7 separate regions of the Homo sapiens genome follow, and all the other regions are linked to region 6. Evidence: fine-mapped expression QTL. A gene starts in region 6. Each other region holds a variant in brackets. All regions are shown on one strand. Distances are from middle to middle.

Region 1 (4,416 bases), 31 kb before region 6:
GTGGTGGCACAATCATAGCTCACTGCAGTCTCAAACTTCTGGGTTCAAGCGATCTTCCCACCTCAAGCCTCCCAAGTAGCCACCATGCCTGGCTACTTTTTTAAATTTTTATTTAAATTTTATTTTTTGTAGAGAGGTGTCTCGCTATGTTGCCTAGTCTGGTCTCACACTCCTGGCTTCAAGTGCTCCTCTGGCTCCAGCCTCCCAAAGCACTGGGATTAAAGGATTGAGCCACTACGTCTGGCCAAATGCTGATTTTTAAATTTTGTTTTGTTTTAAGCAAGCTATTAACTTGGTTGGATCAAGCTGTAAACCATCTCTTGAGCACCAGTTTAAATCTCAGTTTAGTTTGTACATTCTTATCTGGGCTGCTTGAGCCTGCCTCATGCATGCATGGACTAGGAATTGGCCAGAGATTTGGACAGTTTATACACAGAATTTGTGGTTCTTCTTCTCTGCGTCTCTCTGTTTATGGATTCTCCCTCTCACTTTCCAATGGCTGTGGTTGCCTCGAACTCTATCCTTTGATTCTTTAGGCCAGAAGGACTGCAGACTTTCTATCATCATTTTATCTGCCCTGTGTGACTCTACCATGGCCTGCCTTTTGGATAAAAGCCATAAAAACTGTGAAACTCATCGCATATGCATCTTCCTTTTCCAAGTAGTAACTCCTCTCCAGAAACTGCCTGCTTTTGTTCACACTCCAGGGCCTTCAGGTCGTTGTTTTTCCTATTTTGTTCAGAGTTTATGGTAGTTACCTGTAGGGGTTTATACAGCAGGAGCTCACTATGCTACCCTGGAAACAGAACTGCGAGAAGTTTTGTTTGGACACATTACATTTCAGATGGTCACAAGATATGCAAGTGAAGATGTGCACTAGCCAGTTGGATGTATGCACCCGGAGCTCTGGAGATAAATCATTTAACATTTGACAGGGTATAGAAGGTATGAAGAGTCATGTGTGTGGGTAAAATCACCTAGGCCGTGAGTGTAGATGCATAAGAGAAACAGGTCCAGAACCCAGATCAGTGCACTCCAGTGTTTACACACCAGCATGATGAGGAAGAAGTAAGAATGCAGATGAGAAAGAGTGGGCAATGTCGAAAGAGGAAAACCACAAGAGCGTTGTCTTGAAGTCAAAATGAAGAAAGTATTTCAAAAAAAGACAGAGTGACCAAAGGTATCAAATGCTGTTAATGGCTTAAGTAAGATAAAGATGAAAAGTTCACTACTGGGTTTAGCAACATGAAGGTCCTTGGTGAACTGACAACAGTTTTGTTCCAGTGGAAGACTCAGAACTCACTGAAACGAAGACTTGAATCCATAAGTTTGGAGAAAGCTTTCAAGAAATTTTAACTGCCAAGAGAATAGAAAAATAGGATTGAAGCTGGAGGGGGCTATGAGGTCAAGAGAAGTTATGTTTTGATTTTCGACATTGGGAAAAATTATATCATGTTGGTATGCCAGAGGGCATAATTGAGAGGGGATCATTGATGTGTCAGGAAAGTGAGAGTTGGGCCGGGTGTGGAGGCTCACACCTGTGATCCCAGCACTTTGGGAGGCCAAGGTGGGAGGATCATTTGAGCTCAGGAGTTCAAGACCAGCCTGGGCAACACAGAGAGACCCCATCTCTAATTTAAAGGAAAAAAAAGAAAGTGAGAGTACAGAATCCTGTGCTCCAATGGAGAGCCAGCCTTAGATAGAATTGTAGGCAGCTCATTCATAGCAACTGTCAAATCCACACCATCATTTTTTGTCAGTTCCTTCAGTCTGCAGATGATATTAAAGAAACCTATTCAATAAGTTAAGCAATTCAGGAATATGGAGACAGGGGATACAGACTATGCCACTAATTCATTGCCATACCCCAGGCGATCTTATGGAAGAGGCACTAAGGGGCTGAGATGGAGGGATGGAGGGAACAGGACTGGCCATGGGGTGGACTCCAAAGACATGATGCATGCAGAAGTTCCTGGCTTCCTCCTGGGCTAGGGTGAGGAGTGTGGCCAATATGCAAGTGTCAGGATGGTGGTGGTCACGGTGGGGAGGTATGTCTGCGAATGGTGGGACACACAGACCTCATTTGAGAAAACGGATAGCAGCTTCCCGAGGAAAGTCTGGAATCTGCCTGTGCACTCTGCTGTGGCCTCTTCGACTCAGGAATGAAGCCCATCAGAGCTTGGTCCCAGGCCTGGTTGTCACCTTGCTCCCATCAGGATTGCACTTGGTTGCCATCTTGCTCCACCCCTGGCCAGATAAAATTAATCTGAGACAGGATTTGGCTCACAGAGCAGGGTTGCCCCCACTCTGTCTCTGACCTAGTGGCTTTCAAACTCGTTTTCACCAATTTTACATCGTAATTTGGTGCACATACATATATGATATATAGACTTACATAGTATTGAAACAAAACTTTAATGAAACATTTGGTCATTTAATCACTTGTGATGCGCTCTGGTATTTTCCATTTTTTTTAATGCTAGTTACAACCAACGAAACTGATTTCATGACTTCTAACCTGTAGTTGGGAAAATACCACTGTAACCACATAGATGACTTTGCTCTCGTCTGTCTC[G/A]TTCTTTCAGGGTGATGAGCAGCATAAAGATTCCAAGAAGCCTCAAACTGAGTTGATTATCTCGGTGTATCTATCTGTTCCCATAGATTAGCAAATGTGAACTTTAGAGCACATTTATGTAAATGTACTGTTGGTTTCCCTTGACCTGACCTCAAACCTGACTGACTTTTCTGCACACTGAGAGCTACAGTGCTGAGCTCACCACTTCATTCCTTTGTTCTCTCCTTATCTCATCCACTGCACCTCACATTCCATCTTTCCCCACTCAGTCCCCCTGGGAGCCCTTGAAGTTAAACTATTTGAATCATAGACTATCACAGGTGAAAGAGACTTAAGAAGTGTTTGATACAGTTATCCCTTTGGTGTAGTTCAATGATCTCCAGTCTCTGCTTGCATTTCTCCAGTGACAGAGGGCTCACTACTTAGCAAGGTAGTTTCTTTCCTTTCTTTCTTCTTTCTTTCTCTCTCTTTCTTTCTTTTCCTTCCTTCCTTCCTTCCTTCCTTCCTTCCTTCCTTCCTTCCTTCCTTCCTTCCTTCCTTCCTTCCCTCCCTCCCTCTCTCCCTCCCTCCCTCCCTTCCTCTCTCTCTCTCTCTGTCTCTCTCTTTCTTTCTTTCCTTTTGGCCAGATACAGGGCCTTGCTTTGTTGCCCAGGCTGATCTGGAACTCCTAGACTCCAGCAATCCTCCTGTCTCTGCCTGCCAAAGTGCTGGGGTGGCAGGCGTGACCCACGGCACCCAGCCTCATATTTTCAAAATATGCCAGAAAGCTGCATTTTAAAATATAAAATCATCCCATTAAAAAATGCCAACTAATTCAAAATCTTTTTTAAATTTTTCATGAGCTGACAGCCCAGGCTCACTGAAGACACCATGACACTCACATCTGCCTTCAGAGCCCAGTTCTGCGCCCGTAGTGCTGGGAGACTGAGTCTGGGCGGAGCCTGGTAACTTACCCACCCAGCTTTTACCCAGGTCTCTCCAGACGTTCTCAAGTCATTGCTGTAGCCAGGGCCAAATTCAAGAAAACAACCACATTTTCTGAAGAGCCAGAGGGAGCTGGCCTGAGTCTTGCACTAGTGGGTTTTTGTTTGTTTGTTTGTTTTTGGTAAGTGGAGAAAGCAAATGAACCTGGAATACTGTGTCAAAGAAGGCTTTGGATGGAATCCGATCCCCTACCCCGGCCAGGGTACTTACCTACTTGCTTCAGTCTTTCCTTAGCTTCTAGCTTCCTGAGTAACTTCCAACTTTCCTTCTCAATGACTCTGTTTGCTTATCTGTTTGCAAGGTAGTGAACATAAAAATCTTTTTGTGCACTTTCAGATATAAAACATGCAATGACAGGATAAAAATGTAGTTGCTTATCACAAAATTATAAAAGTATCATGGGATCCACAGAATTATAGACTTTTGGAGCAAGAATGGGCCTTTCAACCAGCTAGCTGGCCAAATGAGGTAAACGAATGCAGGGAGTAATTTGCCTAACGTTTTGATGCTGGGCCAGGTGTGGTGGCTCACACCTATAATCCCAGCACTTTCAGAGGCCAAGGTGAGTGGATCGCTTGAGCCCAGGAGTTCGAGACCAGCCTGGGCAACATGGTGAAACCCTGCCTGTACAAAAAAATTAACCAAGTGTGGTAGTGGTCCCAGCTGCATAGGAAGCTGAAGCAAGATGACAGATCACTTGAGCCCAGGAGGTCAAGACTGCAGTGAGCCATGATCGTGCCACTGCACTCCAGCCTGGGTGACAGAGCAAGACCCTGTCTCAAAAAAAAAAAAAGAAAGAAAGAAAGAAAGAAAATACATAGATACAGAAAGGTGAGGCATATAGAGGGCAAACCTCC
Region 2 (4,416 bases), 150 kb after region 6:
ATGGTCTCTTTTATGCTGCACAAAAGCCCAGGGAGGGGGTAAAGGGAAAATCTTTGAAAATAGAAGTGATGCTTGCGCAACACCGTGAATGTACTAAACGCCGCAAATTGTTCCATTTAAAATGATTAATTGTGTATCATGTGAATTTCACTTCAATAAAAAAGAATCCAGGGAGGTAGACATCATCTGCATTGTAAACCTCTCTCTGATCCTGAAGTCCGGGATGATAAAGAGCCTGAGTCACAATCCCGGATGCAACACTGAAATGCTGTGCCCTGAAGCTGCCTTCGCCAGCCTGAGCCCAGTGTCCCAGGCTCTGCATCTGTAAAAACTGGAGTAAGAGTACACATTTTGCTTATCTCACGGCGCTGCTGAAAAATAAGGAACCGTGTGTGAACCTCTAACTCTAAAATGCTGCACAACTGAAAATGGCCTTTTTCCTCGGTGAAGAGTTGGGATAAGGCCCAGACTGTTGGGGAAGATGTGAGACCCAGAGATGAGTTTGGGGAAATGGGGTAATAACATATGGGTGGAGAGTGCCCGCCTTCCTCTCAGGGAGGTTCATCACCTTATCTCTTTCTGTCACAACAGAGAACCCGGAGGACCTATACCCAGTTCCGTGTTCTTCTGGGCTTCAGTGTCTGTTTCTATACAATGGGAACAGCATGCATTCCCCTGCTTTTTCCTATAGACTGGAAAACGTGGTGACCAAGTCACACATCCCAGCTTATGCTCCCGGCTTAAGACAGTGTAACGACAAAGGTAACCCTTACACTCCTGGTTTGAGACAGTATAACGACAAAGGTAACATAGGAAGTCAAGGAGTTCGCTTCACCGCCCCTCCCCCCACCCCACCCTTTTTTTTTCCTGCAAGTTTCTATTCTTCCCGCAGCTCCTACCTCAAAGCAGCATGGATTCATAACCACAGGCTCCCCTCATTAGGGCTTGGGGAGGGAGGGTGTTGGAATCCACACTGCCAGAGTAATCCAGACTAAAACATCAACAAATGGTCCCAGCTGGTTCACCAAGGAACACTTGGCAAAACAAAGAAATCCTGTCTGGAGCGACACGGACACAGCCACAAACCAGTCACCAAATTCCCAGCAAGTATGTGCTAAGAAGCCAAAAATTAAAAATACGTGAGAAGCACCCACTTGAAATTGGTGGTATTACATACATACACTGGCTGTGCGCCATGGGGTTTTTCTGTAGGAAAATGTCCAGTCTAGCTAGAACGGCACCCACAGCCACACCATGAGCAAAGCCACCAAATACCTGAGGAAGCCACAGTCCATGGCACTCCCCATGGAGGCTTCTGAATTCAGAAAAGATAGATTCCTGTGACTTAAACCTGGTCCAAGTCTTCCTAAAGGACATGGAACTTTGAGCTCTGAAAAGATGGAGAATGGTTACCAAAAGCAATGAGGTTGTCGAGACTGGGAAAACTCCATGCAGATGGAGAGATGAGCATGGTGAATATGGGGACCAGGAAAAATGAGGATGGATGAGCCAGATATGGGTTAGAGGACATGATGGAAAGGATGAGGAGTTGATAGCGATTACATTGTTGTGATGGTTGTAACATCAGGCTACACTTGACTAGGGAATATAAATGTTAGTGAGAAAAGATTTGCACAAAGAAAATGCTAATAAAAGTTGACATAAAGTGCTTGTGCTGTGGTGGGCACCATGGGGCACAATAATGAAACTTCACACATCCCTATTACCATTCCCTTTCTACAGAGAAGGAAACCAAGACTCAGGGAAGAAGTAACTGGCCCAGAGTTATACTTTGATTACATAATGCGACATTTGTCCAAATGAATACTGGAGCCCAGAGTAGGGGGGGTAACCCAGAAAAATAAAACCGCCACTGGTTCCAGCAGTGAATTGGGCCAAATTGCAAATAAATGTGGTATAAAATAAAGATCTAGAATGTCTGATGGCACCATTGTTCCTCTGCTTTCAACTGGTCTGAAAAACTCAACTATCTCTAGTTAATAATCTATGATTTTTTTTTTTTTTTTTTGAGATGGAGTCTCGCTCTGTAGCCCAGACTGGAGTGCAGTGGTACGATCTCGGCTCACCGCAACCTCTGCCTCCCGGGTTCAAGCGATTCTCCTGCCTCAGCCTCCTGAGTAGCTGGGATTACAGGCATGCGCCACCTTGCCCAGCT[A/G]ATTTTTCTATTTTTAGTAGATACAGCGTTTTGCCATGTTGGCCAGGCTGGTCTCAAACTCCTCACCTCAGGTGATCCGCCCACCTTGGCCTTCCAAAGTGCTAGGATTACAGGGGTGATCCACCGTGCCCAGCAATAATCTATGATTTAAAACATTATGGGGACTAAGATTTCTTTTGCTAGTGTATGTGTGACATTATAGCACAAGCTTGTCCAACCCACAGCCCGCATGCGTCCCAGGATGGTTTTGAATGCCACCCAACACAAATTTGTAAATTTTCTTAAAACATTATGAGATTTGTGTGTGTGTGTGTGTGTGTGATTTTCTTTTTTAGCTCATCCCCTATCTTTAGTGTTAGTTAGTTTAGTGTTAGTGTATTTTATGTGTGGCCCAAGACAATTCTTCCAATGTGTCCCAGAAAAGCCAAAAGATTGAATACCCTTGTTCTAGCAGCTAATAAATCATTTAATTAGGAAAAACAATCCCTGTGAGAATCAAATGTAACAACTAGCAAGATTAGATCCACATATTTTATATAACAGCAGCACTGAAAAAAAGACTATGTATGTTTAGAAAGATAAAAGACAAAAGGAATTTAAAACATGAGGCAAGAACACCATGTTATTTTTTAAAAATAAAGGCAGATTTGTGAAAGAACTAAGAACCAGATAAAACTTCCAGAAATGAAATACATTGTTATTAGAGAAAAATAAACTTCAGTAAATGTGTTCAAATAGCAGGCTGGGCCCTTAGTGAACCAACATTTGTGTGTTTACTGTATACCCGGTACTGTTTTTAGCAGTAAGTCTGTATTTTTTATTAATTCTCACAATAGCCCCTTGAAGTAGGTGCTATTATAATCCTTACAGAGAAAATGAAGCATGTCCTGTATCTTTTCAGTCTTTTTGTAAGAATTAAATGAGATAAAAACAATACTCAAAAAATAGGTATTCAATAATTAGCTCTCTCTCTCTCTCTCCTTTCTATATCAGTATTAATTCCAATACAATATGATTCAGGGGCTTTGTAAAATAATCGCAATAATTAAAATATACTTGGCACCTTACAGTTTACAAAACATTTTAATATGTTCTCATTTGATCCATACCACAAACTTGTAAGATAAGCAAAGTACAGTACAGTGGTTCCCCCGCTTATTAGTGGGTGATACATTCTTTTGTTTTTTCTTTTTTGAGACAGAGTCTCGCTCTGTTGCCCAGGCTGGAGCGCAGTGGCACAATCTCAGTTCACTGTAGTCTCCACCTCCCAGGCTCAAGCGATCCTCCTGCCTCAGCCTCCCAAGGAGTTGAGACTACAGGCGCACACCACCACGCCTGGCTAATTTTTCTATTTTTTGTAGAGACAGGGTTTCAACATGCTGCCCAAGCTGGTTTTGAACTCCTGAGTTCAGGTGATCCACCAGCCTTCGCGTCCCAAAGTGCTGGGATTATAGGTGTAACAGGCCACCATGGCTGGCCTATTAGGGGATACATTCTAAGAATCCCGTGGCTCAGTGGATGCCTGAAACCATGGATAGTGGTGAACCCTATATATACTATGCTTTTTCCTATACATTCATACCTATGATAAGGTTTAATTTGTAACTTAAAGTGAGATGAACAACAATAAAAGAATTATGATATACAATAAAAATTATGTGAATGTGGTCTGTCTTGCCTACTCACCCTTCTTGTTTTGATGTTGGTGTGAGATGGTACCATGACTACGGGATGAGATGAAGTGAGGGGAATGAGGTTAGGCTACTATTGACTTTCTGACCTTGAGGAACTGAAACCACAGAAAGCAAAATCGTGGATAAGGAGGGGCGACTATATCATTAAGAAAATGTACCTCAAACTTAGAAATAAGTGACCACATGTCCTGTCAATGTTATTTAACAATATTCTAAGAAATATTTAGTTATCTAGACCGTACCTATGTTTGACTTTGTCATTTATTACTATTTAATTAGAGCTTAACGCTACGAAATTATGTTGACTTGTGGATTTCTGACCGGCAAAAAAGATAACCTCAAGGTTATGGTTTTATGCCCCTATAGCACATTATCCAGTTTTGTGTCTATTAGCAAAAGCATTTCAGCTTGCCAGGGCTTAGCAAAAGCATGACACTCAATTGTTCCACTACCACCACTCCCATCTTCGTGCAATGCTCAGAAGACACTGAACAAGTCACTCTAAGCTCAATCCACTGTTCTGGCAACTGGCACTGTGACATAGCA
Region 3 (4,416 bases), 140 kb after region 6:
TTTCCATCAGTATCTGAGCAAGTTGGCAGGAAAGTTGAAAGAATGAAAGGAGACATGCCCAGGGCACCTGCTGGGAGAGTGAGTGGGGCTCAGGTAGCAGAGCCCTTTCCCAGGATGATAACCTCCTTGCCGTTGGTTGCAGAGAGGGGACACTGACCTCACCTTCTTCTCCGAGGACTGTTTTCACTTCTCAGACCGCGGGCATGCCGAGATGGCCATCGCACTCTGGAACAACATGGTGAGCAGCCAAGGGCCTGGTGGGCCTTGTCAAGGGGGGATCTAAGGATATTGACACTCTGTCTCACAATGGCAAAACTACTGGAGACATGGCTCCTTTCTCCCCAAAGCCCAAAGTGGCAGCACACCTTATTGGTCCTGATAGATTAATTCCAAAGGGAAAATACCCTATATTTATCCAACACCCTTTGAAAGTTATACAAACACACACTCACACAACTTTATTCTTTGTTCCTTCAGCAATGCCCAGGTACTGCGAGGGGATCCCTTTGTAATCAGATAGGTTGGCTAGATGAAAATACCAACTTCTACCTCGTACTGTGTGACCTTGGGCAAACGATCTCTCTGGCCACCTGTATCAACATCTATAAAACAGTGAAAACAAGACAGGTCTCAGACAACGCATTGAGATCATGTGTACATGGCACCTAGCACAATAGTTAGCACTCAGCAAATGTCACCACCATCAGCCTTCCAAGCACTCCGGGCTCAACTCATACCCAACTCATTTCTCTAAACATCGAAAAGTGGAGATCCACACAGCCTGTTTTCCGAGGCTGATACCTATTCCAGTCCTTTCTGATGGGAAGAAGGGACCTTATGAAATGAACATACAGTCTGGGGGTCTTTCAGGGACACCTGCCTGGTGCTTCCACTCTGCCTTCTGTGGCTGGCCACCAGCAACTGAATGGTTTCCGCACAGCACTTGACCTGTCACCCCCAACAACTGGATCCTCTTGCACGGAGCAAATGAAATGCCTTCCCAACCCAATGGTTTCTTTTAATCCAGGCTCAGTGGGTAACACAATCCCCACCCCAACCTGTATGTTCCCTCCTTTGTCCTATGACAACTAAACAAGCTACATTCCAGCTCCTTTTATCACAGTTTCAGGCCCATAGTGTCTCTGCCAACCACCGCTGTGCAAACGTTCCCACCCCTGTCAGCTCATCCAGTATGTCCAGCATCCCACTCGGCTGACTCACAATATTGACTTTCTCCTTAGCTATACCATCTCCTCCTCTCTAGCAACCTCTTCTTTTAAGAACAGCATGTAAACTGGCTTTATCCTTGGCCTAGTTAATGGCAGACTCAGCTTATGTCGACTTCCATTGTCAGGGGGTTTTCCTCCTGTGGACATCACGTACCTGCCCACTCCAAGAACTTCTATTGTACTCTTTCAGCCCAAGACTCCGGATTGTAACCAAAATGTCTTTGAGTTTGCCCCACGATTTTTAAATCAGTTTATATGGTATAATTCCTGTTTCTTTTGTGGATTTTGTTTTGAAGGCGGTTGTCCTTCACTGGCTGAATCATGTGACTTTATTCCTTTGTAAAAATCTTCCCAAAGAAAGGGTACCTATTCCCTGTTCCTTTTCCCCTGAGACCTCAGGGGATTCCACAGATGCCCTTGGCCCTTCCTTCCCAGTTTTTTCATCAAGGTATGGCCTTCCTACCAGGTGGCACTCCAAGTCTGCTTAAATCTGGGACCCTCCAGGAATCTCCTGGGGCTGGATAGCCATAGTGACGGCTGGAACATGAAAAAGAGTCCATTGGTTTCTTTTCTTGTGAATTAACAATGTAGCTCTGGCCAGGCACGGTGGCTCATGCCTGTAATCCCAGCACTTTGGGAGGCCGAGGCAGGTGGATCGCTTGAGCCCAGGAATTAGACACCAACCTGGGCAACACAGGGGAGATTCTGTCTCTACAAAAATAATCAAAATATTAGCCAGGTGTGGTGGTGCATGCCTGTAGTCCCAGCTGCTCAGAAGGCTGACGTGAGAAGATCACTTGAGCATGGGAGGTCAAGGCTGCAATGAGCCGAGATGGCACCACCGCACTCCAGCCTGGGCAATAGAGTGAGACCCTATCTCAAAAAACAAATAGAAAAAAAAAATATATGTAGCTCTGGCCTTCTCTTCTAAAGCAGTTCAGTAGCTCTTCCCATTCACCCAGGTAAGAGGCCTTTATTTCATAAAGATAAGTGGGAGGAGTTTAGATATGAAAACAAAACGTAAACACCGCACTGGAGCTATTGTGGAAACAAAACAAGACTGTCCATGGTTCCCCAGCCATTATTATCTCAGCCATACCCCGAATTTCAAAATAACAAAAACAAAACTAAAGCCATCCAGGGGTTTCTTATCCTAGGCTCTATAATTTGGGGAAATAATTATACAGTCTAATGTTTTCATCCAAAGCCAATCTTAGACATAAAGCTGTAGCATGATGCCAACTTTTCAGATCGGCTTCTGGCTGGAATTTCACCCCTAGAGTAACAAAAAATAAATAATAGACCATTAGAGCTGGAACAGACTGAGAGGTCATCTAGCCAGAACATTCTGTAACTAAAGCATAGAAACATGAAGCAGTTTGCCCAACATAACACAGACTGTTCATGGCACAAGGGGGATTACAGACCAGGTTTTTCTAGTCCTTTCCTGGTGACCTGGGCATGCCACCACCCTCCCCACTGCTCCCAACCTGATAAGCACATATATACC[C/T]GGTGAATTCATGTCTCACAATTAGAGTCCTATGACATAGTGTCTGCAGGCTTTGGCTGATGTTCCCAGGGTTCCCTACTAGGAAGCAAAAAGCACCTTAAACTATTTCATCTTATTTCATCTCCTGCCCCTCCTCTCACGTCCTTCTCGAGACTTTTGCAAAGGCAAAGCCAGAAGCTCCAGCAGCACCAGGGGATATTTTCCTCTTCCTCTGCCTTCTTCTGTCTTCTTATCTGAAGAAGTTTCTCTTTCCCGAGGCCTAGTCCTCTACTGCTGCCTCTACTCCCTCTTCTGCAGAAATCCTGCTCTCAGCCAGTGTTTGTATCTCCCCAGGTGCTGGGTGACAGCTCCAGCCTCCTAACTGACATCCCTGTCTTCAGACTTAGAGCTCTTAGAATCGTGACTCTCAGCTCTGGCTGCATATTAGAATCATTCAGGGACATTGTGTATGTGTGTATGTATGTGTATGTATGTATGAATGTGTGTGTATGTGTGTGTGTGTATGTATGTGTATGTGTGTATGTATGTATGTATGTATGACAGAGTCTCACTCTGTTGCCCAGGTTGGAGAGCAATGGCACCATCTCAGTTCACTGCAACCTCCGTCTCCTGGATTCAAGCGATTCTCCTGCCTCAGTCTCCCAAGTAGCTGGGGTTATAGGTGCATGCCACCATGACCAGCTAATTTTTGTATTTTTAGTAGAGACAAGGTTTCGCCATGTTGGCCAGGCCAGGCTGGTCTTTAACTCCTGACCTCAGGAGATCCACCCACCTCGGCCTCCCAAAGTGCTGGGATTATAGGTGTGAGCCACAATGCTTGGCCATCCAGGGACTTTTAAAACAATTAGTGCCTACAGCCACTTTGGAAAATTCTTTGGTATATTTAATAATGCTGAACACATGTATTTCCTGTGATCCAAGGATTTCACTCCTAGGTATATCCCCAAAAGAAAGGTATATATGTGTCTACCAAAAGATACACACAAAAATATTCACAGCAGCACTATTTATAAATAGCCCCAAACTAGAAACTCCCCAAATGTCCACTGACAGTAGGATGGGTGAGTAAACTGTGGCACATTCATACTAAGGAATACCATACAGGTCTGACCGCATCTGTGGCTTTAAACAAAAATCAAGCAGGGTGATGTGACACAGAGTAATGGCTGGGAAGAGGGAGGCCTCACTGAAGAAGTGACAGCTGAACAAACTTCAACAACATACAATAATATCTATAAAGTTCAAAAGCAAGCAGCTTGGCATATGGGGTTAGACGTCAGCATGATGGTGTAGAGACTCACTGGGGGATGAATAGTCCTGGAAGAAGGTGGAAAGGGGCTTTTGAGGACTATAATAGTCTGTTGCCTGACTGGATGCTGGTATGTTCATTTTATCGAAACTTATCTGTTGCTCACTTATGATTTGTACTCGTTTCTATGTGTATGTTAGCTTCAATTAAAAGTTTACTTGAGGCCGGGTACAGTGGCTCACACCTGTAATCCCAGCACTTTGGGAGGCCGAGGCAGGCAGATCCCCTGAGGTCAGGAGTTCAATACCAGCCTAGCCAACATGGTGAAACCCCATCTCTACTAAAAATACAAAATTAGCCAAGCGTGGTGGCACGTGCCTATAATTCCAGCTACTTGGGAGGCTGAGACAGGAAAATCGCTTGAAACC
Region 4 (4,416 bases), 42 kb before region 6:
TGGAGAGGAGTCAGCAGGGGCTGGGGTCATGGCATTGTCCCAGTGGGAATGGAAAGTTTGCCTCCTGGAGGCGCCCCCTCTGCCCCACGTCTGATTGCGGGCAGAGTCTTGGACGGGGCAGTGGCACATTCAGAACCTCTGGCCAGGCTAGGACCATGAGAAGTGGGCTTTTCATAGGTTACAAGCCCTGTGGCCGTGGGAGCAGGCGGGGCAGGGACCCTGGTCAGCCTGATTCACAGGCCAGGATGCTGCCACCTGAGCCTTGTAACTGAGCCCTCGTGGCTCCTGAGGGTGGGTTAAGGAGGAGAAGGTGTTCCGAACCGGAACTCCTAACCAAGGGCTCTATCAGTCCTTCCACCTCCTGCTTCCGGCCCGCCCCACACCTACCCCCTGGAGGGCCGTGGAGTTTCTTTGATGCACGGCCTGGCTGTTTTTCCAGAACGTGGTTCATTTGCAGTCCCAGCCCATCGGGAGAGCGGCCTGAGAGTCTGAGGGCTCCAGCCCAGGGGAGAGGCTTGCTGGGGCCTGGCTGGGCTGAAGTGGTGGAGAGGGGAGAGGCCAGGCCCAGAACCTCTTTTTCCCTCTTGTGTTCCCAGGCCGGTCAGGCTCCTGCTGGGCGATTGATGGAGGTGAGAGGATGTGGGCTAGGGCTGGGTCTGGGCAAGGGCTCTGTGAGGGAGCAGGGTTAGGCACTCTCCCCCGCTCCCCCCACCTGCCTCCCACCTCCACTCTCTGCAGATAGCCCTTGCCCCAAGGCTGCAGCCCAGTTGACATCCCTGAGCCTGGGCCACCAAGCGCAGCTCCCTTGCGCCCTCTAGTGTCTGCCCCTCTCAGGTACAGGGTGCCTTGGGCCAATCTCTGAACCTAGAATTGACCTTCCAAACCGGGCCATTCCTAAGCATGAGGTGGACTCTGTTGACAATGATGCTGGGCAGCAGACGCAAAAAGAGACTGGGCCAGCTGTCTTTTCACTCCACTCAGGTCAGAAGTGCCCCCTCCCCACTCCACTGTGGTCCCCAGAACCATCTCTGGGAACCACCCCATTTGTAAATGAGATAATGCATGTGACGTGCTTAGCAAGGGGCTGGGAGAGTAGGGGACCAGTGACTATGTGGTCAATGAACAGCTATTAGCTCCACTAGGTAGAAGCAATGATCTGTTTGGTCCTGTGCTGGGGGCTCGTTTCCAGGGGGGAGGACAGAGAAGCTCTGTCCAGTGCTGCTGAGGCAGGAATGAGGACTCCATGTTCGGAGTCTGGCACGGAGCAGGAGGGTGATTTGATGGCTCGGTGTGTGTTGGCTGCAAGAGCAAATGCAAAACGTCAGCCTGAGATTAATCAAGACATCCTTCCACTTACCGTTTCGGGTCTTGTTGGGGAGTTTGGAAGGAAAACTGCCTTTCCAGCAAGATGTTTTGACATGATGCCTTTTCCCTGGCATGCGTTGTCTCCTTCTCCCCACCCATCCCCTTCGCCACAGCTTTAGGGATGACCTCTGCCCTGCTGGGTGCCCTTGATGACTAACACAGCAAGTGTGTGGACCGCCACCTGTCCTGGCCTCACCCACCTTCACCCTCCATTTCTTCATGACTGCCCCCGTGGCTTCTAGGGGGAAGGCCCCAGACAGGTTTGCTAAACTACTGACTCCCAGGGCTCCCTGACAGGGCCTGATGCAGGGTGGCCAGCGGTTGTGACCCCTAGACCAGGTGGGTCCCAGCACAGGGACCTGAGCCCCACCCTCAGGGAGCTGGCGGCTACACGGGGAGCGGTCACCTGTACAGATAAATCTAGTGGAAAGCCCCCATGGCCAGAACCAGGGCGGAGGGCCTGGGGCAGGCTCTGGAGTATAGAAGAGGGAAGGCGCCTTTGGAACAGACAGCAGAGAGAAGAGCCTGCAGGATGAGTGCGAAGGATTGCTGTGGACAGAGGTGGGCCAGGGCTCAGCTCGAGGGCTCCCAGGGAAAGGAGCCTGGGGTGGCCTGGGCACCGTGTGTGTGTGTGTGTATGTGTGTGCGCGCGCGTGCATGTGCGTGTGCATAGGTATGATTCAGGGAGACATAAGGGACTTTGGCAAAGTCAGGAGGATGTGGGGGCTAAGCAAACACCACTTTGAAGACTTCTCTTTGGCATGGGGTGTGACAAGCCAGGTCTGGTGCCTTGTTGAGGAAAGGGAGAAAACTCTGAGTTGGTTTTTGTGTTCCTCAAACCAGTTTGCCCACATCCTTGGCATCATCTGTGCCCTGTGAAGGGCCCGCTTGGAGCCATGCATGTCTGGGCCTGAGGGTGGCGGTGCCTACGTGAGGCCCTGCGGTCTCTTCAGGAGCTCCCCGAGAGGGGCACTTGGCCACTGTTGGAGCTGAGAGGGGCCT[G/C]GCCCAGCTCACCCGCCTCTCCTGCTTCTCACCCAGCCCCTGCTGCTGAGAGCTCTGGCAGCCTCCGTGTGCACAGCAGGCCTGGGCTCAGTCACAGGTAGCTCTTCTGTCTGCTCCACGGTGGCTCTCCTCAGGGCCTTGGCTCTCATGTGAGGCTTCCAGCTGCTGCTCACACTCAGAGCTTTGCATGACCAGCAACACACAGGCAGATAAGAGCATTGGGTCTAGGGCGAGAAAATCCTGGGTTCAAGATCAGGCTCTGCCATTTACCAGCTATGTGGCCTCAGGCAGGTTGAACTCTTTGAGCCGCAGTTATCTCATCTGTAAATTGGGGATAATAACACTTAATGGTACTTATCTCATGGGGTTGTCATGAGGATCAAATGAGATGATGTGTGTGTAAACACCTTACAGAGGGCTCCACTAATGGAAGGCATTATTATTGCTGTTTCCATACCACACGACACTCACCCAAGAATGGAAGTTCATGTTCTGACTGTCAATGACGTGTCCAGCATTCCTCCTGTGCTCATTTCATAACTATTCGTTGAGCCTCCTTGGTGCCAGGCACTGTTCTAGACTCTTGGGCCATAAAAATCAATAAAACACAAGATCCCTGCCTCCTTACGGCTGACCTTCTAGGGGAGAGACTTTCACATACCCCAATCTACTTAGCACACATTCCAACCTCTCTCTGGCATCTGCAAACTCAAGTCTGCAAGGTGAAGCAACATCCTAAGCTGCTAGGAACTCTCTCCATAAGTACTCATCCAGATGGCCTGGTGATACGGACAGGAGACAGGGAAATACTGGGTAGAAGAGGGTGGCTCCTGGCAAAGGCCCCACCCTCAAGCCTGAAGACCCACGGCCCTAAATGAGGACAGGCATTCCTGTTTTTGAGCGGAAAAAGTTGCCTTTTGGCCTGCCACACCCCCTATCCTGCACCCATATAAACCCTGAACCCCAGGCTTCAGAAACAGACGAGCAAGCCAGCAGACCAGCAGACGGACAGTGGAACGATGCAGTAGAGAAAGAGAGAGGAGGAGGAACATCTGAACATGGAGAGGAGTTTGACTGGGGACGGTCAGAGAGGAGTCCGGCTGCTGGGCTCCTGACTCCAGGGGAAGATCACCTTCCTACTCCATACCCCCCTTCTGGCTCCTCATCCGTCCCACTGAAAGCTACCTCTACCATTCAATAAAACCTCGCATTCATCCTTCAAGCCCATGTGTGACCCAGTTTTTCCGGGATGCTGGATAAGAGCTTGTGATACAGAGAGCTGTCACACTGGCCCTCTGCCCTTGCGAAAAGGCAGAGGGTCCATTGAGCTGGTTAACACATGCTGTCTGCGGACAGCAAAGCTGAAAGAGCTTTGTAACACTGGGGTTGCAGGCACCCACCTTTAGACACTACAGTAGGGCCAGAGCCCAAATGGCTCACCCTGGCCTCTGCACCTTCCCATCTGCATGCTCCACCTCCTGAGAGGGATTTGAGCAGCAGGGGTGACCGAAAAGGCAAGCGGCACATCCTGAGGGGGATCGGGGACCTCTCCTGTTTCACTGCAGAAGTCCTTTCGTGGCAAAACAAGGTCATGTTGAGACAACACTCAGAGCATTGTCGTGAAAAGGGAGCACAATCATTAAGAGTAGTTGCCCATTTTACAGATGAGGAAATTGGGGCCCAGAAAAGTTTAACTGCCTTGCCCTAGGTTATGCTGCTGCTCAGTAACAAAATAACTTAGTCAACAAATATTTGCTGAGCCCCTATTTTGTGCCAGCCACTGCTTTGGGCACTGGGGCACAGTCAGTGCCTTAGTGGAGCTTGCATTCTCTAAAGGGGTGACTTAAAATAAATATGTAAACAGGTGAGCTCATTTCAGACATGATGAGTGCTAGGCGGAAAATCATACAAGATAATGGGAGGGACAGTGACTTAGGAATGGGGTAGTTGGGGAAGGCCTCCGGGGAGGTGACACTGAAGTCAAGGAACCAAGCAGAGGACACTTCCGGTGGAAGTTATCCTAAATGGTGACCCAGATAAGAGACTCAA
Region 5 (4,416 bases), 130 kb after region 6:
GGAGGAACCAACAGGACTTGGTTACTGGCTGTAGGTAAAGAACTGAGGAGAAGAATGTATCAAGACCACTCCAAGTTTAATATGGCCTGGAGAAAAGCCGGTACTATTTTTAGAAAAGGCAAATCCAGGTCCTAGCTGCTACCCCAGGGCCAGAGGAGGCTCTTCCAGTGCCCTCAGCCTATACCCCAGCCCTGAACTTTCTTTTTGCTTTTTACAGACAGCAGTGGGAGCTCGACCAAACAACTCCAGTGACCTACCCACATCTTGGAGGGGACTCTCTTGGAGGTGAGGATGTTCTTGATGCATGCTCTATTGATGATGCTCTCTCAGAGAGGTGTGAGTAGTGTGTTTCCTGTCACCCCTCCAGGGATGCAGTTGGGTCCCCAGGTCCCAGCGCTGAGACAGGAGACTCAATGCTTGCATTACCCCTGAGGGTGATGGGAGAGACGCCCCAGGGGCCCAGAACCCGGTTCCGGTTCTGGCTTGTGCATATGTTGACACAGGGAGCAGCATGTTGGTGTGAGTTTAACAAATATGCTTTCTCCTCCCCAGCATTGGAGGGGATGGGAACTTGGAGACTCACACCACACTGCCCAGTAAGTAGCAGCCCAGAGAGGCACCATCACTGTGGCCGTCCTCCCTGGGGCCAGGGCCTTCCTGCTGGAGGAGGGGAAGAGGAGGTTATCTGCAAGAAGGGAAGTCAGCCAGCCCTGAAAAGCCCCAGAACTCCTGTGTCCCACCCATGTCCCCACCCTGCATGCTCATCTCAGTTACTGTGAGGGTCCTGCAGGCTCTCACCTGTGCTCTTCTCCTCCTCCTCCTCCTCTAAAGACATTCTGAAGAAGTTCAACCCTTACCTCCTTGGCTTCTCTACCAGCACCTGGGAGGGGACAGCAGGACTAAATGTGGCAGCGGAAGGGGCCAGAGCTAGGTGAGTAGATGCCGTACAGGAGGGCGAGTGGAAGGCAAGACTGAGACATCAGGGTGGGAAACCGGAGGAGAGGAGGGTGGTGTCCAGAAGCCTGGTCCCAGGGGCAATAGCAGCTGTGCAGGACTTTCTATGTGAATTATCTCCTGAGATCCTCACACCCTTGGACAGGGGCACTGAGGCTTATAAGCTTTCCAGAACCACCAAGATTATCCAGCAAGTTATCAGAGGAGGCAGGATCAGACCATGCCTGAATCAGGAGCCTTTGCTCTGACCACTGTGCTATTACCGCCTCTCCAGGGCAGCAGGAGGCGCACATCTGCCCTGGACCCGGGCGCTGTCCCTGCTGGCTCCAGCTCCACCTCCTGCCCAGCAGGTCAAACGTGCAGGGTGGCTCTCAGCACCTCGACAACTGAGTGCATGACCCGGGGGATAGCTGCCCTTTCTCTCTCCCCACCTCACTTCAGTCTTTGGCTCTGAAAAAGCTATATTCTGACACTAGGGAGTTAGATGTCAGGGCCCCCAAAACAGCATGGTGGCTGTTTGTTTTCACTGGGATTTCTGTTGTTGACAACAACTCAGATAATTAAAGCTGAAATGCCTGACCAGGCTCATTGATTTTCTGCATGGAGCGTGCTGGGTGTATGCCTTGTAGAAGGATCACTATGCTCCGATCACCAGGGAAACGACACTGGCTTGACTCACTCTGTTTACAGGGAATGTTCCTTTCAGAAGTGGTAACGTGGGCCCCATGCTCTGTTTGAGTCTCTAAGCCACAGGAAGCGATGTCAGTTCCTCAACGTCACGAGCAGGAAGAAATTATTTTTCTGCAAAAACTGGGCTTTATGAGGTCATTATAGCAACATCTAATTACTGTTATTATTGTTATTATCATCATCATTTTGTTGTTCTTGTACAGTACAGGCTTCATTTTCCAGGAGGTGATTTCTCACTCTGTTGACAATCAAGCCCCTTCTTCCTTTCTCACTTCACTTCTCTTATTGCCTTTTCTATTTTACCGCTGCTCAGCTCCTCTGCCAGATGAAGTCAGTGGCCAGGGAAGTAGTTGAGAACATG[G/T]GGCTCCTTGTGGGTATCTCTGATGTCCAATGTTAGGGGAAAGGAAAGTAATCCATTGACTTAAGAAAGGGAGGTTGGATAATTGCTCTATAACTTTCCTTTATCTCTATTCTGTTGTTTATTAGCATAGATACAGATGAGTTCACCTAAAGAGAAACATACAAACCATAGCAGAACACCTAATATCATAGGGTGTGGGATCAGATCATTCGTGTCTACATTCCAGCTCCAAGGCTTGCTAGCTGTGTGACCTTGGGCAAGTTGCCTAGCATCTCTGAGTCTGTTTCTTCAGCAATAAATAGGGATAATAATAGTACTTCTCAGGGTTGTCATAAGGATTAAATGAGATAAATAATCCGTGAAAAGAATGTAGTACCACACATAATACCCACCAAAAAAGCAGTACAGTACAAATGTACCAAAAGTTTGCCATTTAATAATGGATCTTCAGTTTCAAAGTTTTTTTCATCTAACTTTCCTTCCATCAACCAATAAGAATTCATTGAACACCTGCAAAAGAGTGAACCCTAAGGTGGTTACTAAAAGATACAAAGGGCCAGGCATGGTGACTCACACCTGTAATCCCAGCACATTGAGGGCCGAGGTAGGTGGATCACCTGAGGTCAGGAGTTCAAGACCAGCTTGGCCAACATGGTGAAACCCCATCTCTACTAAAATCAAAAATTAGCTGGGTGTGATGGTACACGCCTGTAATCCCAGCTACTCGGGAGGCTGAGGCAGGAGAATCACTTGAACCCAGGAAGTGGAGGCTGCAGTGAGCCAAGATCGTGCCATTGCACTCCAGCCCGGATAACAAGAATGAATCTCCATCTCCAAAAATAATAATAATTAAAAATAAATAAAAGATACAAAGGAATCAAAAGATGAACTCCCTGGCCACGAAGAGCTTGCACTCTAGGTAAGGAGGCTAAACAAATGGGAAATAACTTTCTGAAAAAGACAATGCTGGGTATGGCAACAATGCAGTGCTTCGCATGGAGTACAATTAAGAGAACAGAAGAGCACACAGTATGAACTGCACTGTCTAAAGACAGATGCAGACCCAGAAGGGACCCCTGAAATCATCCAGTCCAACCTCTTCCTTTAAAAGATGGGAAAAGTCAATCCTAGCAAGATTCAGCAACTTGTACAAGCTCAACAGCAAGTTGGTAGCAGAGCTGAAAGTAGAACCACTGGTCCCTGGGGTAAAAAAGGAAATGCAAGATGTGTGGATCAGGGAGCCCAGAGAGGAGGCTCAAGGGAAAGTAGGACTTGGTCTGGGCCTGAAGGATGGGAAGAAGATGGCTAGGAAGAGGGGAAGAAGCGGCATTTGTAACTTCCCCTCCTACCCACGAGGGCTTATTGCCCATGGATTCTCTTAGTCACACCTTGAACCTGTTAAAAGGTTAAAGGCACTTCTGTGGTCACCTTTGACCAGAAAAGTCTTTCTTTATAGCTTTCTGGTATACTCATCAATAGCAATAATGTATGGGATACAATCCTAGATCTGTAAATTCTCCTTAATGAGAAACAAGGGTAGGGATGGTACCATGTGTGTTTGGCCACGTACCTAGCTTACCGTGGCCACCCAAAGATTTTCAGTGGCCAGCTCGCACTGGTTGCTGCTTTTATGGCTTCTTCCATGGACACTTTCATTGGCTATATCCCCTTTGCTGACCTAACTTCTCACAGACATTTCTTTAAACACAGCTTTATTGAGGTATAAATGACATGCAATAAACGTCACATGTTAAAAGGATATAATTTGGCTGGGTGCGGTGGCTCACGCCTCTAATCCCAGCACTTTGGGAGGCCAAGGTAGGCAGATTGCCCAGGAGTTGGAGACCAGTCTGAGCAACTTGGTGAAACCCTGTCTCTACCAAAAATACAAAAAATTAGCCGGGCATGGTGGCATGGACCTGTAGTCCCAGCTACTCGGAAGGCTGAGATGGGAGGATCACTTGAGCTCAGAGGGGTTGAGGCTGCAGTGAGCCGTGATCACACCACTACACTCCAGCCTGGGCAACAGAGCAAGACCCTGTCTCAAAAAGGATACAATTTAACATTGTACCTGTGAAATCATCACCACAATCAAGATGAAAAATGTGTTCATCACCCACAGGAGTTTTCTCAGGCCCCTTGGTAATCTCTCCCTCCTGCTCCTTCCTGTCCCTACCTCACACCCCAGGCAACCACTAACCTTCTTTCCATCACAATAGATTAGTTTGCATTTTTAAAAATTTTATATAAATGGGATCAAAGAGTATATACTTTTTATCTGACTTATTTAGCAAAATGATTTTGCGATGCATCCATGTTATTCGGTATACCAATAGTTCGTCCCTTTTTATGGCTGAGTAGTGTTCCGTTGGCATTCATATCGCTCATCCAGAACACCAAATGGTATTGTT
Region 6 (4,416 bases):
GGCCTGCACATGAGTGGGGACCTTGGCCTATTCAGCCCAGGCAAGTTCAGTGATGCTCCTCAAAGCTGCTGGTGGCATGGAGCTGGGTAAACTCCTGACATCCTTAGTGGGACAGCAGCTCTGGCTTCTCATTGAACTTGGGGGCAGTTTGGTGAAGTTGACAAGTGTCTACATATCCAGGGGCATCTGTGCTCACTTGTCCCCCACAGACCTTGGCCTTGGGTGTATTTTCTTCTTCCTTTTCTGTGTGTCTGTGTGTGCTGCCCTCTTCTAGGCTCTGGAACTAGCTGATGGCCAGCTGGACTAAGTGTGTCAGTGTCCACACACCTCTGGCATGTCCCAATACCCCCCTACAGTCCTGAGGCTTAGGCTAAGCCTTTGGCATTGGCTAAATCAGTGGTGACCCACAAGTCACATATTTTCTGAGCAGTTGAGAAAGGGAGACAACATCCTAAAACCAGAGATTCAGGAACAAAGGGCCACTCACTTCGTCTTCACTTTCTACTCAAGACAATAGAGGTTATAACAGTAATTAAAAACAATTTTTTTTTAATTGAGATGGAATCTTGCTCTTGTCCAGGCTGGAGTGCAGTGGTGCAATCATAGCTCACTGCAACCTTGAACTCTTGGGCTCAAGCAATCCTCTTGCCTCAGCCTCCCAAGTACCTGGGACTACAGGTGCATGCCACCATGCCTGGCTAATTTATTTTTATTTTTTGTAGAGATGGAGTTGCCCAGGCTGGTTTTCAAACTCCTGGGTTCAAATAATCCTCCTTCTTTAGCCTTCCAAAGTGCTGGGATCACAGGTGTGAGCCACTGTGTCTGGCTGTGATTTTTAAATATGAGAAAAGTGGGTCAGCCAGGAGATCAGAATCTGAGGTTGGGTCATGGGAACCAGCCCTAGAGTCTTAGCTAGACCTCAGAAGTCAGGATCCCAGCCTCACACCCACAAGCATGGCCAGAAAGCAAGGATAATTTAAATATATTTGTTCCTATCAACCAAGGCAATTGTTTCTTGATATTTGTGTAAAAAATTTAAATTCTACTCTCAAGGGTATTTGTCACTCAGGCTTTAAATGCCAGCTTTGTCTGCCCAGTTTAGACCCAGCCTGCATTCCTGACTTAGTTTACCCAAAGGAAACGGCTGATTTTGTCAAACTTGGTTCCCCCTCTCTGGCTTGTATCTCTGAATTCAACATGCAGACAACAAATCTATGGTGTGCACATCCACCCAACACAACTGGCCACCCATGGGTTTGGAGATGGGGGGAACAGAACAAACCTCTCTGTGTCATGCAAACCAGGGAACCTAGCAGAGCTTCTGAGACACGGTGGGAACACGTTTCACATTTGGAGGTAGGTTTATGGTTTACATTTGTTACAAGGTACTTTTGATCTCCTGGCTTACAACTGAGAAAGCTGAGGCCACGTTAAGGGATACACCCAAGTTCCCACAGCTGTGGTTGATTTGGAATTCCGACCAGCACCTGGGATTCCCAGGCCCACGTTCTTCCCAGCAGACCCGAACACCGGCAATTTCTGGGCACCCACCATCATGGAAGGCTGTATGGAGGCAGCTATGCGGCCCTGGTCTGTCAGTGTCTATGACTAGAACATGCTACCCATCATTGACTCATCTGCCTTAAGAACTCTTCCGCCTAAGTGTTAATATTTATCATTTACAGCCCGCCACTACCCCCTTTCAAAGGTGAACACAGTAAAATTTATGACAGGTGCTCTATCAGAACACAGAGGAACATAAAAGCAGGAGGAGGTGTGATAGCCCATCCATCTGCTGGAGCAGCTCTTCCAGAGGCCCGAGTCACCTGGAGCATTCTGGCATGGGGCTGCGGCCAGGCATTTTCCTCCTGGAGCTGCTGCTGCTTCTGGGGCAAGGTAAGCGTGCCTTTTGCTCAGAGGACAACCAGTGGTTTAGCCCCGCTGGTGTCCCATGTTGCTTAGGCAATGGGTGTGTGAGAGGAGTGTGTGCTTTTGAAGAGATAAAGCACAAAGCGTACAGTTCAAGAATAAGAAGTCTGGTTTGCCTCCTGCGGAATGGGATGCAGAGGCTGCCTACACAGGGTTACATGTCCCAAAGGCTGCCGGGAGCGAGGCAGATCTTGGGACAGGAGAGAAGTGCAGTCCGGTAGCAGTACCATGGTACAAAAAAAACCCCTGGATTCTATTTGTTTGTGCTTTGTGGCTTTGGGCAAGTTCTTCCACCTCCCTGGACCTTGATTTTTTTCATCCTTAAAATGGAAATACTACTACTATGCACATTTTGATCATTACTATTACCATTTATGAGCTTTGTTTTGTTTTTGAAGGACAAAGGAAGACAGATTTCCAGATGATAAATTCTAAAAGATTGCCTACATTCTTTAGTGCTGCTAAACAGAGTGCTGAGCTTTCATTGAACTGAGTGGGCAACCAGCCAGGGCTTTCCATTCCCCCCAACATTAATGACTGTGGGTAGATTGTGCCTCTGCCACAATCCCTCTCTGCCCCTCTTCTTCCCATCATTGGCTCTCCCTTTGCTTAGGAAGGCAGAATCTTTTAAACTGAAAAGGGCCTTAAAGATCTTTCATCTTCTCCAGATGAGAGGACGGGGTCTGGAGTGAGAAGGCACTTGCCCTTGACTCCCCAGAGAGAGTGGAGGAGGCATGGGACAGAGTCCTGGGCCTGCCTAGGGTCTGAGCCCATGCTTGAGGCTTCTCTGGGGCAAGTCAGTTACCGCTCTGAGCCGTGGGGGAGAATGACGATGCTTGCTATGCCTTCTGCACAGGATGATTGTATTTCTTTGATTACTGATGAGGCCAAGGAGTGTTTTCATAGAGATTGTTTGAGTTTCTCTTTTGTGAAGTGCCTGTTGAAGTCTTTTTCCTATTGATTTTTTAGGAGTTCTCCATATATGCTGTGTACTAGCTCTTTGGAGGTTACATATATGACAAATATCTTGTTCCACTCTGAAGCTTGTCCTCCTATGGGGACTTTTGATGAGCAAAATTCTTAATTTTGTGTAAATAAATGTAGACTACCCAAATGAGGACAAACAGAGGCTACTTATTCAGAGCTCGCTGTAGCGAGACATCACTTATGTTTGGCCAAGATTCAAAGGCAGGCAGGGGAGTGGGAAAGTTTCACAGTGGAAAAAAGGGAAATCTTCAGATCTGCTCTGGTTGGAGGTTGTTGGTATCAGGGACCAGCTGACTAGAGGCACGGCATCTGAAGTTATCCAGTTGGGAGTGTATCTGGCTTTCTCTGAGGGGTCCTGAGTTGGAAGCAGAGCAAAAAATAGAGAAGATGGCAGTCATTAACCAAACCTGACCATTCTGGGCTGATTGCTGCAGAGGCTGCAGTTTGGTTCTCTGGCCTGGCCGATTGCAGACTGTGGCTCAGAGTTCTGTTATCATATGTGGTCCCACCGTTGTCCATTTGTATATTCTCTATTTTTTTTTTTTTTGAGACAGAGTCTGGCTGTGTCACCCAGGCTGGAGTGCAGTGGCTTGGTCTCAGCTTACCGCAACCTCTGCCCTCCAGGTTCAAGCAATTCCCCTGCCTCAGCCTCCTGAGTAGCTGGGATTACAGGTGCCTGCCGCCGTGCCTGGCTAATTTTTGTATTTTTAGTAGAGACAGGGTTTCACCATGTTGGCCAGGCTGGTCTCAAACTCCTAATCTTAAGTGATCTGCCTGCCTCGGCCTCCCAGAGAGCTGGGATTACAGGTGTGAGCCACCGTGCCCGGCCTTTATTCTTAAGTATATGTATTTTAAATCTTCCTTTATGGTTTGTGCTCTTTGTATCTTAAATAACTCCTCTCCTACCTCGAGGTCATGAAGATATCTTATATTTCCTTCTAAAAGCTTTATAAATTTACTTTTCTCGTTTAAGTCAATCACCCTACATCTGGGATTGACTTTTATGAATAGTATATGAGAGGAACCCAATGTTGTTATTATTATTTCTTTTTGAGATAGAGTCTCACTCTGTCACCTAGGCTGGAGGGCAGTGGTGCAATTATGGCTTATTGTAGCTTCAACCTCCCAGGCTCAAGTAATCCTCCCACCTCAGCCTCCCAAGTAGCTGGGACCACACACCCACTCAGGTTATATAATCAAAATATTGTGTTCAGGCACATGCCACCATGCCTGGCTAATTTTAGTATTTTTTGTAGAGAAGGAGTTTCACCATGTTGCCCAGGCTAGTCTCGAACTCCTGGGCTCAAGCAATCCTCCTGTCTTGGCCTTCTAAAGCACTGGGATTACAGGTATGAGCCACCACATCCAGCCCCTCATTTTTTTAAATGCAGATACCCAGTTGTCTCACTACCATTTATTGAAAAATCGGTTGTTTCCCTACCACTGTGAAGAGCTACCTCTGTTTGTACATTAAGGATTCATGCATGTTTCTATCTGTGT
Region 7 (4,416 bases), 110 kb after region 6:
TTTACTGTTATTTCTAAACATTAATTTTCTAACCCACTAAAGTTGTCTCCAAACGGAGTGGCCTGCTCTGAAAAGCAGTGAGCCCCATGTTATTAGAGGCATTCAAGCAGTGGTCGGACAGCCCCCTGACAGAGGTCCTGTGGAGGAGGGTATGTCAATGGAGAGAGCTTTGTTGCTGGGTACAGCGACACTGAAAATCCCTCCTGATGCTAAGAGTCTGTGGTCTATAAATAAACCTCTAAAATTCCTTCAGTTCAGAGATGCTGATTCCATTATTTCAAGTGGGCAAGGATGTTATAGAGGGTTGAATGGATTTCCTAGGGCAGGGATATTTTCATTTCCTTGTTGGAAATTATCAAGCATTTTCCTCCCTCCATATAGAGAGTAAATTTCCATGAAGACTGGAAGGTCATCACAGTGCTGATCGGAGGCAGCGATTTATGTGACTACTGCACAGATTCGGTAATTGGGGCCAGGTCCAGGCCTACTTGTTGTTCCTAACTTTGCCCAGTAGGCGTTGGAGATCTTCCCTGAGAACAGTTCCTAAAACCAATCCTAGGATTATCCACCTACACCTATGTCTGCACATATACACATACCACACACACACACACACACACACACACACACTTCTTACCCCACCACCCTCCAGGTCCTTGGCACCATCTCCATGTCCTAGGTGGTGAGGTAGCAGGTGGCAGATATATGGTATTTCTACTCCTCTCTCTTATAACTCCTGAGAATTCAGAAAGAGGAAACTGTAGCAAGCAATTGGAAGGAGGAGTCTCCACTTTCTGCTCCTGAACCAAAGCTCTGGCTGAAGGTTCCAGTCTTCCCACTGGCCCATCTTTGACAACAGCAAGTAGTCAACTGTTCATCTCAGATTTTGACATGGTGAGCTGGCCACAGCTGGAGGCTAGAGGGGGAACAAGTCCTCAGGGCTGGAGCCAGAAGGGAAGTTGAGAACTGCCCCACTGCCCTCCCACCCTAACCAGTTCCTCCTTTTCCTCCTTCCTGTCTCTTTCTAGAATCTGTATTCTGCAGCCAACTTTGTTCACCATCTCCGCAATGCCTTGGACGTCCTGCATAGAGAGGTGGGTGGGGGGCTTCCACAAGCTGGTAACAGCTCAAGCATGGTGAGGGTGAAGGTGGATGGGGGGAAAGAATGAGAGAAGAACCCCTTTCTCTCAAGGAGACAGCCAGGGGCATGGACTCCTTCCCTTTTCAGAGGTTGGGGTCTAACCCCAAGGAAACCTTATTTTATATGGAATCAGCCCAGAAGGGCCTCAGGTCTGAAGGAGGGAAGGCTGTTCCCTCACCACTACATGGGACACTCCTTGGTGGAATTGTCTAATGTCTCCCCACTACTATCCGGGACATTTTCTGGTGGTGGCAGCCAGGTGGCCCCCAGGCTGGGCACTGCCTTCTGAGCCACAGGGTGTGTCTAGAGCAAGCCCCTGTCTGGTCCTGCACCCAGCAGCACATTCCCCCTCCACCACCACCATCTTCTGGCAAGGACAAGCTGCCCTGGCTGCGTGAGACAGGGCACTCTGACCACCAGATGCTCCCCTGTGGGGGTTGAGTCTGCGTGCCTACTCAGCAGAGTTAGGCCAGTTTGGGCTGGAGGGAAGAGGTTGCCTATCTCACCGAAGGTAATTCTAATGTATCTGGGCTTGCTACATGATGGCTAAACAGAGATGATCTCTTAGTCTTTATTGTCCCACTCCAGGAGGTGCCATTGCCGCTGCAGCCCCTTTGGGTGGCACCCATGGAGTTGTGTGATGTACGGCCTGTAAGGCCCTACGAGGTAGCCCTGTATAGACTCCTCCCCAGAACTCAACTCCAGAAAGACCAAGCTGGATTGCTAAAGGAACCCATTCCTAGGGGCCCTGAGACAGCCCCAGGAAGAAGTGCCTGGAGCCCCCCTCTCATCTGCAGCTTTTCCCTTAGGTGCCCAGAGTCCTGGTCAACCTCGTGGACTTCCTG[A/T]ACCCCACTATCATGCGGCAGGTGTTCCTGGGAAACCCAGACAAGTGCCCAGTGCAGCAGGCCAGGTAGGCAGGTCCTGGCTGTCCCCACACTGGAGATGCCCTCACCTCCTGGTCTGGCCCACATGCAGTGGTGATGCCTCAGGGTCTTTGTGACTTGGTCTATCCATGTGTCCAAGTCTGTAAAGGAGGACTTCTGCCAGAACGTCCCCTTCCAGAGGCTGGAGCCATGACTCCCCTGTTACCCAACTTCAAGGTGCCTGGCAGGAACTTCTATGATACCAGGCAGCCACAGAGGGGAGGGATCAAAGTTGGGACAGAGGCTGGTGTTTGAGAGACAGGATAGCCTAGACTGTGAACATGGGCAGTGGTTAGGGAAGTAGACATATGTGGTCAAACTGTAACAGAAAGCAAGGAAAAGGTACAAGCAACTCAGTTACCTTTAGGGGAAGAAGAGAATTAGGAGGGACACAGGGAGCTTCAAACTGGGAGTGTTTTGTTTCTTAAACTGGGCCATAAGTACATGGATGTGTGTTTTATTATTCTTTATATCTTACACATCTATTTACTCAGCAAATCTTACAGAACTTCCTGTGTACCAGGCATTGTTTCAAGTGCTTTAGAAATCTCTCTCTTAAGTAGATGTGATGGGTGTGAAATAATTCATGATGAAACCAAAGGGGACACAGTAGGGCACTCATGTGAAAGAAGGAGAGGTCTAAGGCATAGCATCAGAGGCCCCAAAATATCAGCTCCAACACCAGAGGATGCATTTTCTTTTTAATTAAACACTAAATTTTCACTGCCCAAATTCATTTGCTCAGCTGAATAATCGGTTGCAGGCCCAGCACCTGCAGTCCAACACTTGTGCTCTGTTGGTATGAGAGGGTGCTCATTCCCACACTGGCTCCCTCCCTCGGGCCATCTCCAGTGCCCCTGCCAGGCCTGAAGCCTGCCCCTGAGCATGTGCGCCAGAGCCTCAAGGCTTGAGTGCTCCTAAACCAGGGCGGGAGGGAGCCTCTCCACCCCTCCCCTGAACCTGGGCAATCAGAACCAGCCCCTGATGGAAGCCTGAGCTCTGGGGCCTCCTGCCTCCCCCTCTTTGTGCAGCGTTTTGTGTAACTGCGTTCTGACCCTGCGGGAGAACTCCCAAGAGCTAGCCAGGCTGGAGGCCTTCAGCCGAGCCTACCGGGTAAGACCAAGAAGGGCACCATGCTGTGTCCTCTCCCCTACGTTCACTCTAACACACAGCCCAGAGCCCCTAGAGGAGGCACACAGGGAAGGAAAAGCTGGTCAGGGATTGTGGGGAGACGGGGAGCAGCCTGGGTGCCTTCCTCTGTCTCACGTGACTGTGGTGTCTCAGGTGCCCTGGTTGGAATCATCCCAGTAGGATCCAGGTGGAAAAGCCCTCATGGCCCAGCTACCGTTGAGGGCTTAACCCCAACTCCTGGCCCGTAGCCCTGGATGCCTCATGAGACCACCTTTCCCTCCCCCACTCCCACTCCAAAGGCAGGTGCCGAGCCTCTGGAGGTTCTTCCCAGGTTTTTATCCCTTTTGGGACTTCCTGCCTAGCCCTTCAGAGAGAGTAGTCTACTTACAATCAAAACAAAAAGGTGACCCAACCTGTTTCCAAATTCTCTGGAAAGGGACTTGCCCTCAGGTGATTTGTGTTCTCAAGGGAAAGGCTGAGTCGGCCCCTCCATCCAGGGAGATGGACTGCCCACCACCCCTACTCTTGCCTCACTGGGTCCTGGGCCCACCCAGGGCCTGGGCTGAAGACCCTGTGCATGTGTCCCCAGAGCAGCATGCGCGAGCTGGTGGGGTCAGGCCGCTATGACACGCAGGAGGACTTCTCTGTGGTGCTGCAGCCCTTCTTCCAGAACATCCAGCTCCCTGTCCTGGCGGTATGTCCCCTGCCCTCACCCATGGTACTCTTTTAGAGGAAGAAATGCAAGGCAGAATTGCCAGTTGCTTCCACGAGCATGTGCATAAAATGGGAAAGACACAGCTCTCCAGACGCTGTGCTGGCAGGTGCAGGCTCCCTGAACGCCTGAGCCACATCCGTATGTGCGAGGCTCCCATGACCCCTGTAACAGCCTCCATTGTGTTGAGCACCTACTAGTGCCAGGCACTGTGCTTCCCATAGATAAAACTGTCACATCTGCCTTTGGAAATGAGTGTGATCATCCGCATGGAACACAGGTGCAGAGATGTGAAGCGTCCTTCCTAAGATCATTTAGGAAATAAGGGACAGGGAGGCCAACATGAACACAGCCAGCTCCAGATGACTAGTTTTCTGCCACGCACGTGGTCTCTCTCGTGTGCAACGCTGCGGTTATAAGGGAGCATTCTGGGGGTTCTCTGTTTCCACCCAGGCCATGCCCTTTGCCTGGCACTTCCACTCTGAACAGAAGAGATCTGTGAGTGGACC

What was found. PIP is the estimated chance that this variant, and not a neighbour inherited with it, causes the effect.
Region 1: its variant is fine-mapped to the expression of PLB1 in whole blood (TOPMed, PIP above 0.99).
Region 2: its variant is fine-mapped to the expression of PLB1 in whole blood (TOPMed, PIP 0.99).
Region 3: its variant is fine-mapped to the expression of PLB1 in whole blood (INTERVAL, PIP 0.96).
Region 4: its variant is fine-mapped to the expression of PLB1 in whole blood (TOPMed, PIP above 0.99). The same link has a PIP of 0.9 or more in lung, monocytes and neutrophils.
Region 5: its variant is fine-mapped to the expression of PLB1 in whole blood (TOPMed, PIP 0.92).
Region 7: its variant is fine-mapped to the expression of PLB1 in whole blood (INTERVAL, PIP above 0.99).

The regions. Positions count from the first base shown.
Region 1 is chr2:28,462,998-28,467,413 of GRCh38, forward strand. No RefSeq gene overlaps it. Among named protein-coding and RNA genes, the nearest start is that of PLB1, 31 kb to the right of the region's middle. The variant G/A (reference allele first, on the strand shown) is at 2,576.
Region 2 is chr2:28,643,958-28,648,373 of GRCh38, forward strand. PLB1 (phospholipase B1) reads left to right here. Exons shown (of 58, transcript NM_153021.5): 58 at 1-185. Among named protein-coding and RNA genes, the nearest start is that of PPP1CB-DT, 110 kb to the right of the region's middle. The variant A/G (reference allele first, on the strand shown) is at 2,177.
Region 3 is chr2:28,632,802-28,637,217 of GRCh38, forward strand. It overlaps PLB1 (phospholipase B1), which reads left to right. Exons shown (of 58, transcript NM_153021.5): 56 at 143-238. Among named protein-coding and RNA genes, the nearest start is that of PPP1CB-DT, 120 kb to the right of the region's middle. The variant C/T (reference allele first, on the strand shown) is at 2,740.
Region 4 is chr2:28,451,852-28,456,267 of GRCh38, forward strand. No RefSeq gene overlaps it. Among named protein-coding and RNA genes, the nearest start is that of PLB1, 42 kb to the right of the region's middle. RefSeq lists enhancers at 1-392, 393-906. The variant G/C (reference allele first, on the strand shown) is at 2,368.
Region 5 is chr2:28,620,048-28,624,463 of GRCh38, forward strand. PLB1 (phospholipase B1) reads left to right here. Exons shown (of 58, transcript NM_153021.5): 47 at 218-285; 48 at 553-596; 49 at 832-931. Among named protein-coding and RNA genes, the nearest start is that of PLB1, 130 kb to the left of the region's middle. RefSeq lists an enhancer at 1,743-1,832. The variant G/T (reference allele first, on the strand shown) is at 2,006.
Region 6 is chr2:28,494,274-28,498,689 of GRCh38, forward strand. It overlaps PLB1 (phospholipase B1), which reads left to right and starts at 1,787. Exons shown (of 58, transcript NM_153021.5): 1 at 1,787-1,896. The coding sequence starts at 1,842.
Region 7 is chr2:28,600,871-28,605,286 of GRCh38, forward strand. It overlaps PLB1 (phospholipase B1), which reads left to right. Exons shown (of 58, transcript NM_153021.5): 37 at 382-462; 38 at 1,029-1,094; 39 at 1,951-2,051; 40 at 3,096-3,177; 41 at 3,785-3,889. Among named protein-coding and RNA genes, the nearest start is that of PLB1, 110 kb to the left of the region's middle. The variant A/T (reference allele first, on the strand shown) is at 1,987.